Regions from separate parts of the Homo sapiens genome. Here region 2 is linked to region 1. The links come from fine-mapping of genetic effects on gene expression. A gene starts in region 1. The other region holds a variant in brackets. All regions are shown on one strand. Distances are from middle to middle.

Region 1 (5,367 bases):
CTGCCCTGAGCTCAAGTCTTCCCCTGCACCCACTCCAATAGCCAAGGCTCTCCACCTTCCACACGTAGTCCTCCCAAAGCACATCCCTATGGAGGCATCCACAAGCCCCATTCTGCCTGTGCCCTCAGTCTGGGCCCAGCAGTAGGCAGGACCTGAGTAGGAACCCACGAGAAAGACACTGCCCCCAACTATCCTCTCCCATGTGTCATCCTAAACTTTCCCCCACTCCCCCGCAACAGCTGGCTCTCACAGATTTGTTAAAGCAATCCCCCACTCACAAGTATAAACCAAGTGAGAGCGTTAGCTGGTAATCACTTAAGCTGCAAAGCACTTGCTTGCAGGGGTATTGCATTTTAACTGAGACATGGTCCCACAGAATCCAGCTTTAAAGCTTTGTTGCAGGGCTGGTGGAGCTTCTGGCTGGGGGGATGGGAGACTGTGATGAGAGCTGCCCAGAGTCAGCAAGGTGGTGGGAGACTGTCGCCTACACTCAAGGCCACCCCTGGACATCCCTCTGTTTCCACTGTATATCTGCTTTGCTCTTAACCAAAGGAAAGAGTTCTTCATGGCATTTTGTCTTGGGGGTGGGAGGACTGAGGTTCAGAATTTAAACCTCAACCACTGATAGGATCTACCCCACCCCAAAAAGATCCCAGCAGGAAGCCCCAGAGGGCCACCATTACATTCCCAGAAGTTGTCAGAGCTCAGGAATACCCAGCCCATGAGCATCCTTAGGGCTACTCATCCCAAACCTGTGCCTGATCTGCAGAGTTTACACTGATGACTCACAAAGCAAGAGGGATTGCCTAAGTATCTGTCTTAGAGACAACACCTGGGTTCAAATTCTGTCTAGGCCTCTTCTTAACAACCATGTGATGTGGGCCAAGTTTCTTAACCTCTCTGTGCCTCCACTTCCTTATGCATAAAATGGAGATAACAGTACTACTTCGCAAGGTGGTTGTGAAGATTAAATGGGCTGATACATGTGAAGTACTATGAATAGTGCCTGGCACACAGTAAGTGCAGAATAAAGTTAGTTATCATTGTTACCATGATTTTTTTTCTCTTCTGTGAGCCAGTTCCTGCTGCAGGGTTCTCTCTGCTGCCTGTTCAGAGCCCCCTGTTGGGTAAGCAGTGCTGAGGAAGATACAAAACTACCCAGGAAGAGATGGCCCAGCTGGGTGGGTGTGCATCTCTGCTGGCTTCACAAACCCTGCCCTGCCAACCTGTCATTTCAAATTATCCTCCTTCCCCTCCGTGTTCTTTGCACTACATATTTTCTTTAAAAGTTCCAGGTAAAGGAGCTTTTGTAAGTCAAAGTACTTAAAACCAAAAAACCTGTGCTAGCCACAGATACTTTATCTTAGTTTCTAATTAAACCTCTAGGCAGAATGAATCTTGAGCTTGTCCTTAAGATTTTCTGAATCTTCTGTATATTCCAATCCTGTACCACACCCACAAAACACTGGTGTACACAAGGAGACTTGCTTTTTAAGAAGAGAATAATTTGGTTTACAAGAAGATTTGGGGAAAATGGGGATAATCGCTTCCAAAATTGGTCATGTTTTTAAGGCTTAAAGTGGGGTCCATCTGTACTGACACCTGTGCTCCTTCCACCAGCTCTGGAAGCAAGGTGGATGGAAACACCTGCCCTCACGAACACCTGTAGGCGTTAAGCCAAAGGGCATGACCACAGCCCAGAACGGCCCCTCCAGAGGTTTCTCTGGGATAGCCCAACTGCGGTTTTTTCTCCAGGCCGGCTGCTTGCTCGACTGAGTCCATGGGATCTAGGAAACCACTCAGCCAGGAGCTGGGACTGGGGAAATCAAGCAGCAGCCTCTGGCTTGCAAGTCATCTATTCCCTATTCTATTATGGGTCTCTGTTTTCCATGCTGCACTGGGAGAGTGAATCTGGCTGTCTTTCCACAAGGGAGCCCGGAGGTGGCCCTGTCCAATTTAAGCCGAGAGAATAAGGCTCTGCAATAGTGTCAAAGGGGGATTTCTGGGGGTGGTGCCAGGGAGAGTCCAGAGCCCTGTCGTGGGGCAGAGGCCCAGCAGGAGTAGGATGAGGTGGGTGGGGAGTGGAGGGGAACCTTGGCACCAGGGCTGGAGAGTCACCTTACCAAGCTATGGGTAAAGTGCCCTGCCCCTCCCAACCTGGCCTTAACGGTGAGGTCCTGTGTGTCTCGGGGGCCCATGCAGGAACCATGTTCTGGCTGCCTCAGGAGGAGGGCTACACAGAACCCACTAAACCCCGTGGCTACCCGGGGGAAGGGACAGCCTGTGTTAGCTGATGTGGAGCTGCCTACAGTGGAGCCTGGCCCTGGGAATCAGTCAAGCCGCAGGCCACCTCCAGCACCCTGCACCGCCACAGAGCTGGCCCTCCCACGGTCCTTCCACCTCACTGCCAATCCCGCCCCCGGCAGCCGGGGCTACTGACAAACCCCAGAGGAGCTGTGTAAGAGGGGCACCCTCCCCACCTCTGCAAACTCTATCACTCCTCTCCCCACGGGGCGGTGGGTGGGGGAAGCAGGTGGGAACTGGTTTTATCCTCTCACAGGGATGAGTGATGACAAATAAATAAGCCAGAAGTCACCTTCAGTCTCTGGAGAGAGTTTTCCAGGGAGAGCTGCGGGGGAGGGAGGGAGGGAGGGAGGCAGCTCTTCGGCCAAGATGGAGCTGGGAGGGGTGGTCGCGGCCGGGAGGCGGGGGCGACGGGCAGCCCCACGGGGCCGGGGGAGAGGCCGGGTCGCGGGGCGGGAGGGAAGGGTCGGCCCGGCGAGGGTGGGTGCCGGGGGCCGCGGGGCGGGGGCGCACGGGCGCGGCACTCACGTCCTTTTGAAGACGCCCCCGAGGGCGCTGCCCAGCAGGAGGCAGAGCTGCTGCGAGAAGAAGACCCAGGAGATCTGGGGCAGCGAGCTGTGCGTCTGACAGCGCAGGTCCAGCAGCGTGGGCCCCAGGAAGGCGATGCACAGGCCGAAGCTGAAGAAGACGCTCCAGTAGGTGAGCGTGGGCTGCAGGTTGCGGCGGAGCAGCCCCGACACGCGGCCGTCGCAGCCCATGGCGCAGGCTGACGGGCTCGCGGATCTGGTCCCGGCGAGCCCGGTGCCCGAGTGCCGCCCGCGGGAGGGCCGGCCGGGCTGGGGAGGCCCGCGGCGGGGAGGGAGGGGCGGGGAGGGGCCGCCCCAGCGAGGGGCCCCGCCCTTGGGCCCGGGCGGCGGCGGGGGCGCCTCTGCGGCGGGTGGGCAGTGCGTCCGCTCCCGCGCCTTCCCCGTGCGGTGCCAGGCGCCGGCCTCCCCCTCCTACCCGAGCGCACATGCTCGCCCTCCCCCGGCTGCGGAGACCAACCGGGAGCCGCGCTGCCCCCCGCCCGCTCTCCCTCGACCAGTCCCCCCAGCCTCCGGATGCAGCCCCCAGGGACCGAGCGCCCATTTTAGAGCCCGGCAGATGGAGAGCCCGAGACATCCTGTATCTCCGGATAAGGCTAGGGGCCCTCTCCCCGCACCCGGGCTGTGGCAGTGGAGGAAACCCGGACCCCTTTAAACCTAGGCGCTTCACAGATGGACTTCGAGGGTCTAACGGCACCCCCCTTTCCCCCAGAACAGAAGGCAAAATCTTGTTGTACATATGTTTCTCCTTGGGAGAGTATTCGTGCATGGCTTTCATTAGAACCCCAAGAGGTTAATCACATTGCCCTTTAGAAGGAGAACCCTAGAAACTCAACATCTTCCTCACACTAAGCTCCCTGGAAGGGCCTGAGATGAGGCCCTCCTCCCCACCTGGCCAGGTGCGGGAAGGAGGAGGATGACGCTGGTCTATGCTGACTCTCTCTCTCTCCTTCTAACTAGTTGGAGGAGGGCAGAGAGGGAAGGGCCGCGTCCTGGAGGAACCCCGGGAGGAATTCTGAAATAATCTCCTAGAAAAAAAAATTTAAAAAGAGTTCTGGGGAAAATTCTTTCTTCCATGGATAAATCCCTGGCAGTGAGTAGGGGTTGATTATTCTCTAGACTGGGTGTCCTTCGAGGAGCCTGCAGCTGACCTAGGCTGTCCCTTCATTAGGTGGCCTCGGGCTGGCTGGTGGGTTCTGTGTGTTCCCGCTCCTAAGGGAGCCAGGATCTGGCCCCTGGAGGCAGAACAGTAAGGCCCTGCGGTGTCCCCTCTGCCCAGGTCTTCTGGTAATGACAGGAGCCATGACATCATTTCCACTGGCCCACCAGGGGGACCAGGGCTGAAAAGACTGAGGAGGTATGTGGGCGGGTGTCCCCAAGACAACTTGGCATGAGGTGGGGCAACCAATTTCTCTTGCAGGTACTGGTCCCATCTCATAGCCGCACCCCTGCATCTGCCCTATCCCTTCTTGGACAGTGAGCCCCAGAGAAGGGGGAGCCCCAGGGTCCCTCTGGCTCATCACTCTGTGGGTAATGACAAGTACTTATTCGATAGTGATGATGGGGGGCCTGCACAGTAATTGTAATAAACTGAAAAGCTACCCTCTGGGGGAAAAAAAAAGAAAAAACACCAAACAAATCATAACCACAAGTTTTTGACTGAGTCTTCTCTGCCACTATCACAGAACTCCAGGAACCATAGAAGCTCAGAATTGGAAGGAATAGCCTCCAATTGAGTCCCCTATCCCCTCCCCATAACTGCCTTTGAATGCTTGCCAGTCCTGTTCTTGACTGACACCTCTAGTGCTGGGGACCTTGCATATTCCTAGGGGCTCTGCTTGCAGTGTGGATGAGCTCTGGTTGTAGAAATGGTCTTAGGCAAAATTGAAATGCTTCGCCCTGTAACTGCTCCCCACGGCCCCACACAGAACAAATCTAATTGCTCTGTCATGTAAGTCCTTCACACCCAAAATGACCTTGCCCTAATGATTTTGCTTCTCTAGCCCAAACACCTGAAATCCTTCCATAATTTCCCTAAATGGCGTTCCCCAACTACAGCACCTTGCTGGCTCAGCTCCTCTAGCCACAGTAACAAATGACCCTGCCACAATGAGGTAGCCCCCAGTGCCTGGGATGCTGGAAGCATTCTGAAGCTTGATCTAGGTGGTAGTTACACAGGTGTAAATATATGTAAAAACTTATTGGTCTGTAGATTTAAGATTTGTGCATTTTTGTGTGTAAGTTATACTTGATTAAAATGGTAAAAAGTAAAAATAAAAAGTAAGTAAAAATAAAGGGAGGCATTCCACCGTGAATACAGTACTCAGCCTCTTCATAGTCAAAGACCTATTGGGTTCTGGTACTGTACAAGGTCCTCTGGTTGAGATAAGCAGATATGGAAACAAGTTACAGTTGTCTCTCCATATCCCATATCCCGTGGGGGGATTGGTTCCAGGAGTGCCTGCAGATACCAATATCT
Region 2 (5,367 bases), 31 kb after region 1:
ATTTATTTCTGAATCTCTAGTGTTTCACAGAGTGGTCTAAGCCAAGGAGACTTTTTTTTTTTTTTTTGAGACAAGGTCTTGCCCTGTCGCCCAGGCTCCAGTGCAGTGGTGCAATTAGAGCTAACTGCAGCCCAAACTCCTAGGCTCAAGCGCTCTTCCTGCCTCAGCTTCCAGAGTAGCTGGGACTACAGGCATGCACCCCCATGCCTGGCTACTTTTTAAATATTTGTAGAAACAAGGTCTTGCTATATTGCCCAGCCTGGTCTCGAACTCCTTGCCTCAAGTAATCCTCCCGCTTTAGCCTCCTGAAGCACTGGGATTACAGGTGTGAGTACCGGACCTGGACCCAGGGAGTTTTTTTTTCTTTGTTTTTTGAGACACTCTCACTCTGTTGCCCAGGCTAGAGGGCAGTGGCACCATCTCAGCTCACTGCAACCTCCGCTTCCCGGGTTCAAGCAATTCTTGTGCCTCAGCCTCCTGAGTAGCTGGGATTACAGGTGCATGCCACCATGCCCGGCTAATTTTTGTATTTTTAATAGAAACGGGATTTTACCATGTTGGCCAGACTGGTCTTGAACTCCTGACCTCAGGTGATCCACCTGCCTCGGCCTCTCAAAGTGCTGGGATTACAGGCGTGAGCCACCGTGCCTGGCCCCCAAAAGATTTGTCTCTTAACTTTTAAAAAGTTTTAAAATTTAGGTAATGTTTGTTAAGTTCATAGCCTTTTGCCTAACATCGGTATCTGTTAGAGTAAGGGACACCAGAATTCCCAAACTCTAATGGCATTTTGGGAGGACAGGTAGTTCTCCATAGACAGAAAGGGTTTTATTCACTTGTGTGCCCCACGGAACCATTCCTCCTTTTAGTAAGAAGCCTTTGCCTCCTGGTCACAGCCCTCACAGTGAAACAGAGAAGGTGGGTGATGCCTGCTTCTACCCTCAGGGAAAGATGACATAACAACAGCTTACACTGTGTAATGCTTTCTACATGACCAGTAAATTCTGCGTGCTCTTCTTCTTCTTATTCTTCCTCTTCCTCTTCCTCTTCCTCCTCCTCCTCCTCCTTCTCCTCCTTCTTCTTCTTCTTCTTTTTTTTTTTTGAGACGGAGTCTTGCTCTGTTGCCTAAGCTGGGGTGCCGTGGCGCAATCTTGGCTCACCACAACCTCCGCCTCCCAGTTCAAGCGATTCTCCTGCCTCAGCCTCCTGGGTAGCTGGGATTACAGGTGTGCATCACCATGCCTGGCTAATTTTTGTATTTTTAGTAGAGACGGGGTTTCTCTATGTTGGTTGGCCAGGCTGGTCTCGAATTCCTGACCTTGTGATCTGCTCGCCTCGGCCTCCCAAAGTGCTGGGATTACAGGTGTGAGCCACCGTGCCTGGGCTCTGCGTGCTTTTCATGTACTAATTCATTTAATCCACACTCATCCTATGATCACCCCATTTTGTAGGTGGGGAAACTGAGGCAGAGAGAAGCCATGCGATGTGGCTAAGTTCATACAACTAGGATGTGGTGGTGCCAGGACTTAGGCTGAGGCAGCCTGGCACAGCACTGCCTCTATTGCTTATAAATCTCAACCTCGCCCCACCCCCACTCATCTTCTACAGAGAAGCCAGGCAGTAAATTCCATTACCAAGTGGAACACTGGCTGGAGGTGTGGAATCACAGGTGGCTGAAGGTACCCACTCAAGGCATCTGCCCAAGGCAGGAAACAGTACTGAGCCCTAACCTCTGGCCCCATCTCCTGTTCCCTGAGGTGGCCCTCCTACTCTCATCAACTCGAGCTTTAAGAATCTCAGATTGTGGGCTGGGCATGGTGGCTCATGACTGTAATCCCAGCACTTTGGGAGGCCGAGGCAGGTGGATCACTTGAGGCCAGGAGTTCAAGACCAATCTGGTCAACAGGGCGAAACCCCATCTCCACTAAAAATACAAAAATTAACTGGGCATGGTGGCACATGCCTGTAATCCCAGCTACTTGGGAGGCTGAAGCATGAGAATCGCTTGAACCCAGAAGGCAGAGGTTGTAGTGAGCCAAGATCATGCCACTGCACTCCAGCCTAGGCAACAGAGTGAGACTGTCTCAAAAAAAAGAAAAAAAAGTCCCAGATTAGTTCATTCCCACACCCCAGAATCAGTCTCAGGTCCTGAAAAGCCAAGTCTGGCCTCAAAGCCAGTGACAGGCCTGAGAGGATACCCCTGGCATCCTGGAATCCAAGGAGAAGGGTGTTTGCAAGCCCAGGATCATGCTTTGCCACATTCCTCTGGCTTCTCTGAGGAAGGTATCTCATCTGCCAGTTACACCTTGCTACTCCGCACAGCAAAAAAGAAAGATCCAAGGAATAGGGTCAGGCCAGGTGCAGATCTGGCTGCTGGCTCCTCAGGAACCTGGCAAGACATACCAGAGGCAGTGATGCCCCTGGAATTCCCAAGTGGTTTCCCAGTCTGGGGGACAAAGC[A/G]CTTACTACCTCAAGAGGCAGCGGATCCACTTTGAGTGACGCCTGACCCAGTGCCTTTTATCATAAATTCTCTTTCCATGTTTACTTCCCCAGCTACGTTTAAAGCTTCCGTGGAGAAAAAACTCTGGGCTGAGGTCATTTTAAAAGTCTTGCAAAATCTTTTAAGTAGGATGTTCTTAATACATTCTTGCTGATTGAGATCTTATCAAGAGTGAAGAATGCAAGAAATAAAAGCATATGATCTTCCACTTTACTTCCAGGAGGGAGGAAGCTGGAATTCCTGCTTGTGGAGAAGTGGGTGGGAGTGTGCAGAGTGAGGATGTGAAGCTCACTCACCTAGCACTCTGGGTCAGGCCCCTCCTGAATATTCATTCTCTTTTTGTCTTTTTTTTTTTTTTTTTTTTTTTGAGACAGGGTCTCACTCTGTCACCCAGGCTGGAGTGCAGTGGCACGATCTCAGCTCACTGCATCCTCCACCTCCTGGGTTCAAACAATTCTCCTGTCTCAGCCTCCCAAGTAGCTGGGATTACAGGGGTCCACCACCACGCCCGGCTAATTTTTGTATTTTTAATAGAGATGGGGCTTCACCATGTTGGCCAGGCTGGTCTCGAACTCCTGGCCTCAAGTGATTCACCCGCCTCGGCCTCCAAAAGGGCTGGGATTACAGGCATGAGACACTGCGCCCGGCCTGAATATTCATTCTTAAATCCTCACAACCTTGTGAAATAGGTGTTATCACTATCTCCGTTTTACAGAGAGGGAAACTGAGGCACAGAGCAGTTAAGGAACATTCCCAAGGTGACACAGCTTGCAAGCCGTAGAGCTGGGATTTGAATCCAAGTCTGTGATTTTGGAGCCTGTGTGTTATTTCCCTGGTTGTTCAAGATTCCTTCTTCCCAGGAACCTAGGACTTAGCCAATCTCTCCTCCAGGGAAAACATGAGGACATTAAAACATTTTATTGTTCTTGAAAAAAAAAAAAACCTTAGGAAATTTTAATAGAATGACTAATGGACAACTGTCTTTCCCCCAAGTAGCTGAGACCTTAAGAAGCTGAGAGGAAGAAAAGATTATCCTAGCCGCCTCTGAGATGCTGAGCTCCTGGGAGTGGGGTCTAAGTCAGGGTCAAGTTTGTATCCTGGGTACTGAAAACAGAGCCTGGCACAGAGTCTGGAACCATCTGATGGATAATGAGTAAATTAGGGAGGGAGGAGCTCTGGAGGAGACAGGAAGATGAGGAACTGGGCTAGAAGTTTCTAGCCCAGAAAGGGGCAAGCAGGAGTGCTGACCACATGCAGGAGGGCAGCGGGGATCCTCCCTGCCACGCCCTGTCCATGCTTCAGCTCTCCATGTTTGCGTCACATCACCAGGAAGGGCCCAGGGATGCAGGAGCAAGGGTTGATGCTTGGCATTGAGAACACATCTCAGGGACTGGAGGCTTGGGTTGATTCAAGGGAGAGGCTGCAAAATCTCCTTCCTTAGACAAGAGGCTGGGTCAAATTATTGATCTCTGGGTTTCAGTATTACTCAGGGCCGCCCACTGAGTAATACCTAGTGCCCCCAAGGGGCACTGAGAGAAGTAAAAAGAAGCAGGAAGAAGGAAGAGGAGAAAACAAGGGAGGAAGCGGGAGTGGCCACGTGGCACCTGCAATCTCATCAGAGCTGCCCTTGGCCCCACCCGTCCTGTCTAGGAGAATTGGCACACACTCCCTGGAGTCTGGGCACTGACCATCAGCAATGATGCCAGCCACCGGGCCTCCACAGCTAGGGCGGGAGCAGGGCCCTGGTGCCCAATGATGCTTTTAGTTGGCAGATGGTGGGAGGTTCTGAGGGTCCGGAAGAGGGGCTGAGTCATCACTCAGGGGGCACTTGGTGGGGTGGGGGATAGTGACTTTTGCCCAACCCCCAGGTGTCAACTGGCTGCCTGTCAGACAATGCTTTTAGGTGACCAGAAGGCAAGGATTTCCCAGTCCCTGGAAACCAGATGCCCATCCTCCATGCAAACAAGTGAGGTGGAGTGTCCGTGCCAGTGCCCACACCTGCCCGGAGGCAGCTGCTCAGGTAGGCTGACCTGGGTTGTAATTGACAGTCCACCTTACTCCCTGTGTGGCCATGCAGGTCACCTAACCCTAGAGCCTCTGTGGCCCTCCCTGGGATTAGGATGACAGTCCCTCTCGCAGCAACACAGGAGAGCAGGTGCTTCCCTTCTCCCTTCCCACCACACCTGCTGCTGCTCTACCACCACCTGGGGGATCCTTCCTCTCCCTGCCCCATCACCCTCCTTATAGGGGCTGACATCTCCTATTTGACCCTCTGAGCCTTTAAAAACAGAGGCCAGTGGCTTCCCATCTCAGAATAAAATCCAGAACCCGTACCACAGCCCGCAAGACCCCGCACGAGTGAGCGGTTCTCAACCCTGGATACATGTTAGGGTCATCTGAATCAATCTGAGCTGGGGCCGGATGGCAGTGGATCTTAAGCACTTCCCAGGTGGATCTAATGGGCAGAGCCACTGCCCCACATGATACATCCCTCCTGCCATGCTGCCTGGCTCACTGTGCCCTGGCCTCACTGCCTCTCACTCATTCTCAAGTACGTTCACCTCAGGGCCTTTGTTGGAATACTCTGTCCCTGGCTGTCCACCTGGCCCCCTTACACAACATAGCTCACTTTTTTTTTTTTTTTTTTTTTTTTTGGTACAGGGTCTCACTCCATTGCCCAGGCTGGATGGTAGTGGCATGATCACTGCTCACTGCGGCTCGACCTGGGTTCAAGTGATCCTCCTACCTCAGCCTCCTGAGTAGCTGAGACTACAGGCATGAGCCGTCACACCCAGCTAATTTTTTTTTAAATAGAGACGGGGTCTCGCTATGTTGCCCAGGCTGATCTCAAACCCTTGGGCTCAAGCGAT

The links. PIP is the estimated chance that this variant, and not a neighbour inherited with it, causes the effect. A credible set is the group of variants that fine-mapping cannot tell apart.
Region 2: its variant is the best candidate, but not a certain one, in a credible set for the expression of SLC60A1 in sun-exposed skin (GTEx, PIP 0.52).

The regions. Positions count from the first base shown.
Region 1 is chr1:205,566,765-205,572,131 of GRCh38, reverse strand. SLC60A1 (solute carrier family 60 member 1) reads right to left here and starts at 3,118. Exons shown (of 10, transcript NM_181644.5): 1 at 2,833-3,118. The coding sequence starts at 3,062. SLC60A1-AS1 (SLC60A1 antisense RNA 1) reads left to right here and starts at 2,827. Exons shown (of 4, transcript NR_152721.1): 1 at 2,827-3,003. It also overlaps the pseudogene RNU2-19P. RefSeq lists enhancers at 1,739-2,287, 2,288-2,837.
Region 2 is chr1:205,535,650-205,541,016 of GRCh38, reverse strand. No RefSeq gene overlaps it. Among named protein-coding and RNA genes, the nearest start is that of SLC60A1, 31 kb to the left of the region's middle. RefSeq lists an enhancer at 4,079-4,580. The variant A/G (reference allele first, on the strand shown) is at 2,458.